3 linked regions of the Homo sapiens genome follow. The protein of the gene in region 3 interacts with the protein of the main gene of each other region in a pairwise test. Each region holds a gene or a part of one and is shown on either strand. Other genes may lie near its edges.

Region 1 (3,752 bases), on a different chromosome or scaffold from region 3:
ATTCAAAGAGTTTTTCTTTAGTTTTAGGTGATACGCCTTGAGTAGGAATATCATGAGGCTGTTTCCAGCTTCGAGTATGTTGGTGATAGGGTGTAAGGGATCTCAGAGCATCTAGTCTTGTCCATATCTTAAATCCAGGCACTGAGGTCCAGAGGGGAGTTATTTACCCAGGTCACATCAGATGAAGATAATGAAGTATTCCAAGAGGATTTTAGTTTTATTCCAAATAGGGTAAGTGTTCTGAGAGTGTGAGGAGAGAAGGTGAGGAGGCTGGGGTAAGGATGGGCATAGAAGGGGATGGAAAGGAGGGCTGAGAGAACTCAGAACCAAATTTCAGGCTATCACTTTCTCCACGCCACATTCCAGTGCCTTGCCATCAACTCTTCTGTGAATCTTCAGGAATTTTATTAATTCCCCAGGACCAACTTAGACTTTCATAAGTTAGATGTAGTTATATTACTTCCCTGAAGCACTTTTATGCACAAAGAATAGATGTAGCAAACAAACTTCACAAGATTTAATTTTTGAGTTTCCTTTTTTATTCTGAGGAATTCCGCTGTAATTCTCAGTGACACAGAACCTCTAGAGCTACTTCACTATGACAACCTTCTTCAAATCTCCAAAGGGCTGTTACATAAGGAAGAGGGTCGGAGTTCTGTATTCAATCAAGAAGGCAGAAGATTGAGATGATAAGTTGCTACAGGGAGGCATAATTTAAAGTCAATTTAAACTGTAATCCCAGCACTTTGGGAGGCAGAGGCGGGAGGATTGCTTTGAGCTCAGGAATTCAAGACCATCCTGGGCAACACAGTGAAACCCCGTCTCTACAAAAAAAAAATAGTCGGGTGAGGTGGCACACACCTGTAATCCCAGCTACTTGGGAGGTTGAGGCTGGAGAATCGCTTGAACCCAGGAGGCAGGAGGCAGAGGTTGCAGTGAGACGGGATGGTGCCACTGCACTCCAGCCTGGGCGACCGACTGAGATCCTGTATTTAAAAAAAAAATAAGGTCAGTTTAAGTTTCGTTCCTGGGATTGAGCGGATTGCCTTGCATTAGGCAAGGTTTTAAGTGCTTTCCAACTCTGGAATTCTATACCTTTCCCAGTAGATATCTAAACCCAGCAAATCCTGGGCCTGAAGTTTAAAACTAGGATCCTCGTCTCCCAACCACATCTAGATGATCCCATAGTGTAATGAAGGGTGCTTGGGCTTTGACACCAGGCAAACTTGGATTTTGACCTGGGACAACTAAGTCACTTGACCTCACTGAACCTTAGCTCCCTCCACTGACAGTGGGGACAGTCTGCTGGAGGGTGTGTAGAAGACCTCGGGTTGCCTTTTGGAGGTTCTGGAAATGTCCCTTGAAAGATGAATGGAGTTAATTTAAAAATCTTCGCCTTCTGTAATTTTGGCTTCTTGCAAACACGCTTCCTGCCAGTCCTGCTCCGTCAGGCGGGAGGCAGCAAACCCCAGCCCTGGCTCCAGGACAGGGCCGAAGGCAGGATAGACGGAGCAACGGGTCCGGCTGCCGCCGGGATGTTGCAGCACAGGGCCTCCTGGCTGCCTGGCCTACAGGCCGCCCGGATTCAGCCGGAGGGCATGGACCGGGTGGAGTCCTGCAAGGCGAGAAGGGACACAGCGCATGCGCGCGGCAGGGAGGGCGTTTCCAGGAGGGAGCGGCCTTTGCTCAGCGCGAGACGGCTGGGCGCCGAGTGGGACAGCGCTGGTGCGGAGACTGCTTCCGGACTCCAGGTACCGCGCTTGGCGGCAGCTGGCCCCAGACTTCTGTCTTTTCAGCTGCAGTGAAGGCTCGGGGCTGCAGGTGAGCTGTGCATCCCGCAATGGAGACCTTCCTGCTCTGAATTTTCTTACAAAACTGCAGAAATATAAGGGGCGTTGCTTAGCGGGCATCCCCTCCCCCGCGCCAAACCTGTACAGCAAACGATGATGCAGAGGACCTTGAGGGGATTTTGCAGGGCATCGGTCTTACCTCCGCGGTATCATTTTTCTCCTCCTCCCGAGTTTCTGCCTTCTGGTATCCCTAAATATCCCACCTATCCTGCCTCCTACCTTCCTGGATCTGGGGTGGTGGGGTGGGCTCATGGACCATTGCAAAATGCTTGGCAGGATTTTAACCTTCTCAGCACCACCCAGACCCCACTCGAAAATGTGCCTTTTGTGCCCTCCAAGAGCTCAAGGGTAGGTAATTGTTATATCTTTAGCATGTGAAAATGCTTTTTATGTAACAGTTCACCGAAAATCTCTTAATTCTCCGAATTTTGGAGGATTTGGGGCGGGCAGCGAGGCTGTCCCCTGTCACCTTGTTTTGTACCTGGTATGGTAAATCGTTTTGCTGCATTGCATCCAAGATGCGTTTTAGTCCTTCCAAGGCTTGAGCATCACATTTGTGATGAGAGCGTGTGATGTGCTGTGCACATCCTCTCCCACCTTATCCCTTCCATGTTAACACAGCCTCTGGCTTTAATGTGTGCTTCTGGCCTGGCCACATGGCTCCGTCATGGAATAGGTGATTCTTTTGTCTGAATATTCTCTGTGAGAACAGAATCTTCTTGCAAGCATTGGGAGTAGATTTATTTTGCCTCTTTAGAACAACAGTCAGTTCGCTAAGGAGATTAAGGGGCTACCTGTTTCCTGGCAATAAAGCTGTATTGGGTAGGTCAGTTACAGAATGTCTTCAGGCAGAAGCTGTTCCTTTGGTTCACTCACTCATTTATTCATTTAACAAGTATTTTAAGTACCTGCCTTGTGCATGGCAGGGTTCTTGGTGCTGTGAGGAGGACAAAGATAAACTGAACCTTGGTTTGCCCTCAAGGAGCTTGGCTGGCTGAGAGTTGAGAGAATCCCAACCAAGTAAAAGGGTATGGGTCCTCAAGAGAAGATCGCAGGAAGAGCTGGGGGGCTCAGGATGGAGTGGAATTAATCTTTCACAACAGCTACTTAGCTTTAGGAGAAAATTAGGTCTAGAAGTTACACCTGATAATGAAAGAACTCTCATAAGCTTCAGATCTGTATGTAAGGGTGTTTTCCGGACTGTGTGTTGGGCGTCTCAGACTGAATACATTCTAAACAGGTCCCATCATTCCTAGCCACCTCCCTCTTCCCACCGCCACACACCTGCTGCTGTTCCCATGTTCTCTGTCTCAGGGAATAGCATGAGGCTCCCCGACTCCCTACTTCTCCTAATGGTCTAAGCCAGATACCTAGGGGTGAGTCATCTCTGATTCACCCCTGACTTTCCCTTCCCGCCTCAAATTCAATTCTGATTCTACCTCCTGAACTTCTGAAATCTGTCCACCTTCTCTCCATTCTCATTGCCATTTCTCTAGATAAGCCTACCGTTATCAACTAAGCTCTTGCTTACTTTACTGCAACAGCTTCCCGATTTATCTCCCTGCCTCACTTCACAACCCATCTTCACTACTGCAACTGGGAAGTGCTTGCTGGAATTTAAATCTGATTGTGAGGCTCCCTTCAGTGATCCTTCATTGCCCTTAGGACGGAACCAGACTCCCTTTACGGGGCTTATGTGGGTGTACAGCCCTGTCTTTCTCACCAGCACCCTCTCTTTTCACAAGCCCCTTGCACTTTTCATTTTGAGAACATGCTTTCTTGTGCCATTAGGGCCTTGCACATGCGCTCCCTTCTGCCAGGAACACCCTTCCCTGCACCCTCTTCACTTGACTTATTCATGCTCCCCTGTAGGGTAAATGCACCTGACAGCAATAATTAAAG
Region 2 (3,752 bases), on a different chromosome or scaffold from region 3:
TTAATTCATTCCTTTTTGTGGCTGCATAGTATTCCATCATATATATGTATATATTTATATATATACATATATATATATATCACAGTTTCTTTATCTACCCATTGATTGATGGGCATTTGAGTTGGTTACACAATTTCACAATTGTGAATTGTGCTGCTATAAACATGTGTGTGCAAGTATCTTTTTTGAATAATGACTTCTTTTCCTCTGGATTGATACTGAGTAGTGTGATTGCTGGATCAAATGGTAGTTCTACTTTTAGTTCTTTAAGGAAACTCCACACTGTTTTCCATAGTGGATGTACTAGTTTACATTCCCACCAGAAGGGTAGAAGTGTTTCCTGTTCACCACATCCACACCAACATCTATTTTTTTTTTGATTTTTTGATTATGGCCATTCTTGCAGGAGTAAGGTGGTTTCACAATGTGGTTTTAATTTCCATTTCCCTGATCATTAGTGATGTTGAGCATTTTTTCATGTTTGTTGGCCATTTGTATATCTTCTTTTGAGAATTGTCTATTCATGTCCTTGGCCCACTTTTTGATGGGATTGTTTGTTTTTTTCTTACTGATTTGTTTGACTTCCTTGTAGATTCTGAATATTAGACCTTTGTCAGATGTACAGATTGCGAAGATTTTCTCCCACTCTGTGGGTTATCTGTTTACTCTGCTGTCTGTTCCTTTTGCTGTGCAAAAGCTCTGTAGTTTAATTAGGTCCCAGCTATTTATCTTTGCTTTCATTGCATTTGCTCTTGGGTTCTTGGTCATGAAATCCTTGCCTAAGCCAATGTCTAGAAGGGTTTTGCCAATGTTATCTTCTAGAATTTTTGTAATTTCAGGTCTTAAGTTTAAGTCCTTAATCCATCTTGAGTTGGTTTTTGTATAAGGTGAGAGATGAGGATCCAGTTTCAATCCCCTACATGTGGGTAGCCAATTATCCCAGCACCATTTATTCAAAAGGATGTCCTTTCCCCACATTATGTTTTTGTTTGCTTTGTCAAAGATCAGTTGGCTGTAAGTATTTGGGTTTATTTCTGGGTTCTCTATTCTGTTCCGTTGGTCTATGTGCCTATTTTTATACCAGTATCATGCTGTTTTGGTGACTATGGCCTTATAGTATAGTTTGAAATCAGGTAGTGTGATGCCTCCAGATTTGTTCTTTTTGCTTAGTCTTGCTTTGGTTATGTGGGCTCTTTTTTGTTCCATATGAATTTTAGAATTTTTTTTTCTAATTCTGTGAAGAATGATGGTGGTATTCTGATGGGGATTGCATTGAATTTGTAGATTGCTTTTGGCAATATGGTTATTTTCACAACATTGATTCTACCCATCCATGAGCATGAGATGTGTTTCCGTTTGTTTGTGTCATCTGTGATTTCTTTCAGCAGTGTTTTATAGTTTTCCTTGTAGAGGTCTTTCAACTCCTTTGTTATGTATATTCCTAAGTATTTTATTATTACTATTATTATTTTTTGCAGCTATCATGAAAGGGGTTGAGCTCTTGATTTGATTCTCTGCTTGGTCGCTGTTGGTGTATAGAAAAGCTACTGATTTGTGTACATTAATCTTGTATCCAGAAACTTTTGCTGAATTCTTTTATCAGTTCTAGGAGCTTTCTGGAAGAGTCCTTAGAGTTTTCAAGTTAAACGATCATATCGTCAGCAAACAGTGACAGTTTGACTTCCTCTTTACTGATTTGGATGCCCTTTATTTCTTTCTCTTGTCTGATTGCTCTGGCTAGGACTTCCAGTACTATGGTGAAGAGGAGTGGTGAGAGTGGGCATCCTTGTCTTGTTTCAGTTCTCAGAGGGAATGCTTTCAACTTTTCGCCATTCAGTATTACGTTGGCTGTGGGTTTGTCATAGATGGCTTTTATTACATTAAGATATGTCCCTTGTATGCCGATTTTGCTGAGAGTTTTGACAATAAAGCAATGCTGGATTTTTTCAAATGTTTTTTCTGCATCTATTGAAATGATCATGTGATTTTTGTTTTAAATTCTGTTTATGTGGTGTATCACATTTATTGACTTGCATATGTTAAACCATCCTTGCATCTCTGGTATGAAACTCACTTGATCATGGTGGGTTATCTTTTTGATACATTGTTGGATTCAGTTAGCTAGTATTTTGTTAAGGATTTTAGCATCTATGTTCATCAAAGACATCAGTCTGTAGTTTTCTTTTTTGGTTACGTCCTTTCCTGGTTTTGATATTAGGGTGATGCTGGCTTCATAGAATGAATTAGGGAGGGTTCCTTCATTCTCTATCTTGTGGAATAATGTCAAAAGGATTGGTACCAATTCTTCTTTGAATGTCTGGTAGAATTCTGGTGCGAATCCATCCGTTCTTGGACTTTTTTTGTTGGTAATTTTTAAATTACCATTTCAATCTTGCAGCTTGTTATTGATCTGTTTAGTGTATCTAATTCTTCCTGATTTAAGCTAGGAGGGTTGTATTTTTCCAGGAATTTATCCTTCTCCTCTAGGTTTTCTAGTTTATGTGTGTAAAGGTGTTCCTAGCAGCCTTGAATGATCTTTTGTATTTTGGTGGTGTCAGTTGTAATATCTCCTGTTTCGTTTCTTAGTGAGGTTATTTGGATTTTCTCTCTTCTTTCCTTGGTTAATCTTGCTAATGGTCTATTAATTTTATTTATCTTTTCAAAGAAACAGCTTTTTATTTCATTTATCTTTCATGGGTTTTTTTGGTTTCAATTTCATTTAGTTCTGCTCTGATCTTGGTTATTTCCTTTCTTCTGCGGGTTAGGATTTGGTTTGTTCTTGATTCTCTAGTTCCTTGAGGTGTGACCTTAGATTTTCTGTTTGTGCTCTTTCAGACTTTTTGATGTAGGTGTTTAGGGCTATGAACTTTCCTCTTAACACTGCCTTTGCTATATACCAGAGGTTTTGATAAGTTGTGTCATTATTGTCATTCAGTTTGAAGAATTTTTAAATTTCCTTCTTGATTTTGTTTTTGACTCAATGCTTTCAGAAGCAGGTTATTTAATTTCCATGTATTTGAATGGTTTTGAAGATTCCTTTTGGAGTTGATTTCCAGTTTTATTCTACTGTGGTCTGACAGAGTGCTTGATATAATTTCAATTTTCTTAAATTTATCAAGTCTCATTTTATGGTCTAGCATATGGTCTATCTTAGAGAAAGTTCCATGTGCTGTTGTATAGAATGTGTATTCTGCAGTTGTTGGATGAAATGTTCTGTCAGTTGTAATATCTCCTGTTTCATTTCTGTTAAGTCCGTTTGTTCCAAGGTAGTTTAAATCCATTGTTTCTTCATTGACTTTCTGTCATGATGGCCTGTCTAGTGCTGTCAGTGGAGTATTGAAGTCCCCCACTATTATTGTGTTGCTTTCTATCTCATTTCTTAGGTCTATTAGTAATTGTTTTATAAATTTGGGACCTCCAGTGTTAGCAGCATGTATGTTTAGGATTGTGAAATTTTTCTGTCGGACAAGGCCTTTTACCGTTATATACTGTCCCTCTTTGTCTCTTTTAACTGATAATGCTTTAAAGTTTGTTTTATCTGATATAAGAATAGCTACCCCTGCTTGCTTTTGGTGTCCATTTGCATGAAGTACCTTTTTCCACCCTTTTACTTTAAGTTTATTTGAGTCCTTATGTGTTAGGTGAGTCTCCTGAAGGCAGCAGAGGGTTGGTGAGTTCTTATCCATTCTGTGGTTTTGTGTCTTTTAAGTGGATCATTTAGGCCATTTACATTCAATGTTAGTATTGGAATG
Region 3 (3,752 bases):
CTCAATTTCCCAAAATCATGATTTCCCAATTTTTGGGGGGCATCCCCAGTTAGGTGCTGTCTCGGAACATTCCTGTGAGGCTGCTCTACCCAAGCCCTCTCCCTCTAGCGCCCTCTATTGGACACAGGTACACTATGCCGGAGGCTGTCAACCCTCAGAGTTCTAACACTGTACTTAGGGTGGAGGGCATGGTGGCAGAATTGTCACCTGGACTCCAAAAAGGATACTGCCTTATGCCCAGAGTCTTGCAAATATCTTTATTAATACAGTTCCTCCATCTTTTGGCCCTAACCCCCTCATTCCCTAGAGGCTCAGGCCACAGGCCCTGCATGTAAGTGGGGGGCAGTGTGCCATGCTCCCTGTAGGGAGTGGACAGTGGCACCCCAGAGATGTCCACCTCCTAATCCTGGAACCTGTGAGTATGTTGCCTTGGTAGTCCCCTATGGTAAAAGGGACTTTGCAGATATGATTAAGGATCTTGAGATGGGGAGGTGATCTTGGAATATCTGGGTGGGCCCAGGGTCATCCCGTGAGTCCTTACAAGTGAAAGAGGGAGGCAGAAGGCTCAGAGTCAGAGGGAGAGTTGAATATGCATTGCTGCTAGCTTTGAGGGTAAAAGTGGCTAGGAGCCAAGAAATGCAGGAGATCTCTGGAAGCTGGAAAAGGCAAGGAAACAACCATCCCCCAGAATCTCCAGAAGGAATGCAGCCCTGCCGACACATTCATTTTAACCCGGTGTGATGTATTTTGGACTTCTGACCTCCAGAACTGCAAGATACTAAATACGTGTTGTTTTAAGCCACCAGATTGTAGTAATTTGTTACAGCAGCAAACTATAGCGATGAATACATTCTGCTGATGTCTTTGTTTCCTATCCCTATTTCTCGCTCTAGGTTTACATTTTAAAACTGTTTCCATCTAGGCCGCGCGCTGTGGCTCGCGTCTGTAATTCCAGCACTTTGAGAGGCCAAGGCAGGAGGATCACTTGAGGTCAGGACTTCGAGACCAGCCTGGCCAACATGGTGAAACCCTGTCTCTACTGAAAATACAAAAATTAGCTGAGCATGGTGGCATGCACCTGTAATCCCAGCTACTCAGGAGGTTGAGATTAGAGGATTGCTTGAACCCAGGTGGTGGAGGTTGCAGTGAGCCAAGATCATGCCACTGCACTCTAGCCTGGGTGACATAGCGAGACTCTGTCTCAAAAATAAAAAAAATAAAATTAAAAAACTATTTTCTTTTTTTTTAGCGTTAAATCGAAAGTTCCCTAGTTAATTCCCACAATTAGGAGGGGCCCACCAGTTCCACAAATAGGAAATCTCTGCACTGCTCTTGCTCGTAAAGTGTATTTGCTTTTTCATAAATTGCTTATGTTCTTTGAGCCACCAATGGTTTAATGTCAGAATAATATAGATCATTAGAGCCTCTCAAGATCCCACAAGGAACTGCACTTTCTCCTGTAGTTAACCATCCAGTCATCCATGCAAGAAATATTTATTGGATGCTACCATGTATCAGGCACTGAGCCAGTATTGAGATGTGAAGACACAGTGCATAATCTAAGCCTTTACAGAGGCCACAGATGTTGGGTTTTTATGGCTTGAGAACAACATACATTGTTTCTTTCCAGGAAGCTAATTGGGGTACATGGAGCCACTTTGACTAAGTAGCAAGGAACAGGAACTGCACACTGGTTCCATCTTGGCTTCCAATTTGTATTCAGACCCAGGCAAGAGTTAAAGAGTTCGATGATAGATAAGCACAGATGCAAAACAGTACAGTCCAGTGCCTCTTTGCTTAGGCTAATATCTGCCCTCTCTTTATCCTCTCCAGCCCTGCCTTCCTGCCTTTGACGCAGGGAGCTAAGGGTCTGAATGAACCCTGTTGGAGGTTGCAATTAAATCTTTGTGGACAAAGGCACACACACACACACATACACAGAATCCTCAGATAACAGGAGGCAATAAATCCAACAGCACATCCACGTTCAGAGAACAGTGTCCCTGCTGTCTTGCTAACAGCTGCCAATACCTCACTGAGTGCCTCACACCAACATGGGCTCCAAGGTAAGATTTTTCTCTCTCCGGACAAATTTAATCTTTCCTTGTGATTTGTGTCTCTGTCAGAGGATTTTGACTGTTAAGTAAAGTTTACTATTGATTTGTTGGCAAATTCCTGGTTTTGTTTGTTTTTGTTTTGGGATTTGGGTGTGTGTGTTTCTCTCTCTTTGTAGTACTTACTTCACTCACTATGTTTTTTAATTTTCCATGGCTTGTCTTTTATTCTTATCCATACATATCCTAAGTCAATTTGTATTCAGAAATACCTCCTTTATATAGAGAAATGAAGGATCTTAAGTAATTGCATGCATTTACTGGTTAAAACTTAACTGAGAATTTGGTTCACTTAGGACCTTGGTCACGTTAATATGTAGTAGTGAGAGGGTTCTTCCAGCCCTGGGCTTAGAACAGAGTACCTCAGTGTTTGGGGTACTCCCAACACCTGAGGCTGACTATTGAATTTCAGTGATAATCATTTAAAATTATTTACTTCTTTAATTACAAAAGTAGCTCATTATTGAATATTTAGAAATACACAGAAGATAACTGAAGTCATTGATTATAAATAACTGGCATTTGAGTATCTCTCTACTCTCTCAAAAATGTGCCCATATATTTATATTTAGACAATTGAGATAAAGTTGAAAACACAGTTTAATTTCCCTTTTTTACTTAACGTTATAGTAATAGTATTTTCTGTATCATTAAAATTATTTGAAAATATAATTTTTAAGAGCCGCTTAATAATCCACCATTAACATGTTTGACTTTTTTCACTAAGAAAAATAATTCTGCAATTGATCATTTTGAGTATAAGTCTTTGGCTGCATCTCTGACCTTTTTTCTTTTGTAGGATGGGTTCCTTGTAGTAGAGTTACTAAGTCAAAGAGTATACAATTTTTAGGGCCTGATAGATTTCATGATGGTAATCTATTTTAAAATTTAAATGAGTGATATTGTTGATACCACAACAGAAGCCACGTCAAAGAAAATGAAATTCTCCCCAGAAACTCTTATTACTTGAAGTTTGACAAGGTACTGTGACTTAATGCTGACTAATGATATGAAATCCTGAATAGAGAACTAATCATGAAAGTCAATATTTTATTTTCACAGATGAAGGCATCTTTCTGATCAGGGGTTTGTAGCTCAAACAAAAGAATGAGCGTGCTTCTAGAACCACAGAGCAAGGGAACATGGTAGAGGATAAGCTGGCAAGTTGAAAAGCGTGGGATTTCATCCCAGTTTGACACTAACTGTGCAACCCCAAACAAATCTCCTAACCTTCAGAGGCTCGGATTTCTTGTCTATGAGATGAAGGTTGGTCTACATCAGTGTTTCTCAGTGGGCAGCCCAAGTGACACTGTGCCACATGAAATATTTTGGGGTAGCACCTAGAACAAAGGTCATACTTTTTTTGCATGCCACATAAAATAACTTTTTGAAACATGATATCAATATCTATGTTGGTTTTAAAAATTTTTTGAGAGTTAGGGGTCTTGCTATGTAGTCCAGGCTGGACTCAAACTCCTGGGCTCAAGATATCCTCCCACCTCAGCCTCCCAAGTAACTGAGACTCCAGGCACATCCCACCATACCTGGCAGTATCTCAATATTTTAAAAGAGTGGATCTAGAGGAAAAAGATGAAGTAAATGATAGTACAGGTAGTCCTTAGATATGACATAAACCAT

Evidence for each region.
Region 1: the proteins of SLC18A1 (region 3) and TMEM14A interact in binary tests that used the Homo sapiens proteins (3 or more experiments, as listed by UniProt).
Region 2: the proteins of SLC18A1 (region 3) and MALL interact in binary tests that used the Homo sapiens proteins (3 or more experiments, as listed by UniProt).

Annotation. Positions count from the first base shown.
Region 1 is NC_000006.12:52,669,425-52,673,176, forward strand, and holds the start of TMEM14A (transmembrane protein 14A), read left to right. Parts: upstream 1-1,688; 5' UTR 1,689-1,821; intron 1,822-3,752. UniProt on the Homo sapiens protein: Inhibits apoptosis via negative regulation of the mitochondrial outer membrane permeabilization involved in apoptotic signaling pathway.
Region 2 is NC_000002.12:110,109,200-110,112,951, reverse strand, and holds part of MALL (MAL-like protein), read left to right. Parts: intron 1-3,752.
Region 3 is NC_000008.11:20,181,377-20,185,128, reverse strand, and holds the start of SLC18A1 (chromaffin granule amine transporter), read left to right. Parts: upstream 1-1,992; 5' UTR 1,993-2,066; intron 2,067-3,176; exon of another isoform or gene 3,177-3,380; intron 3,381-3,752.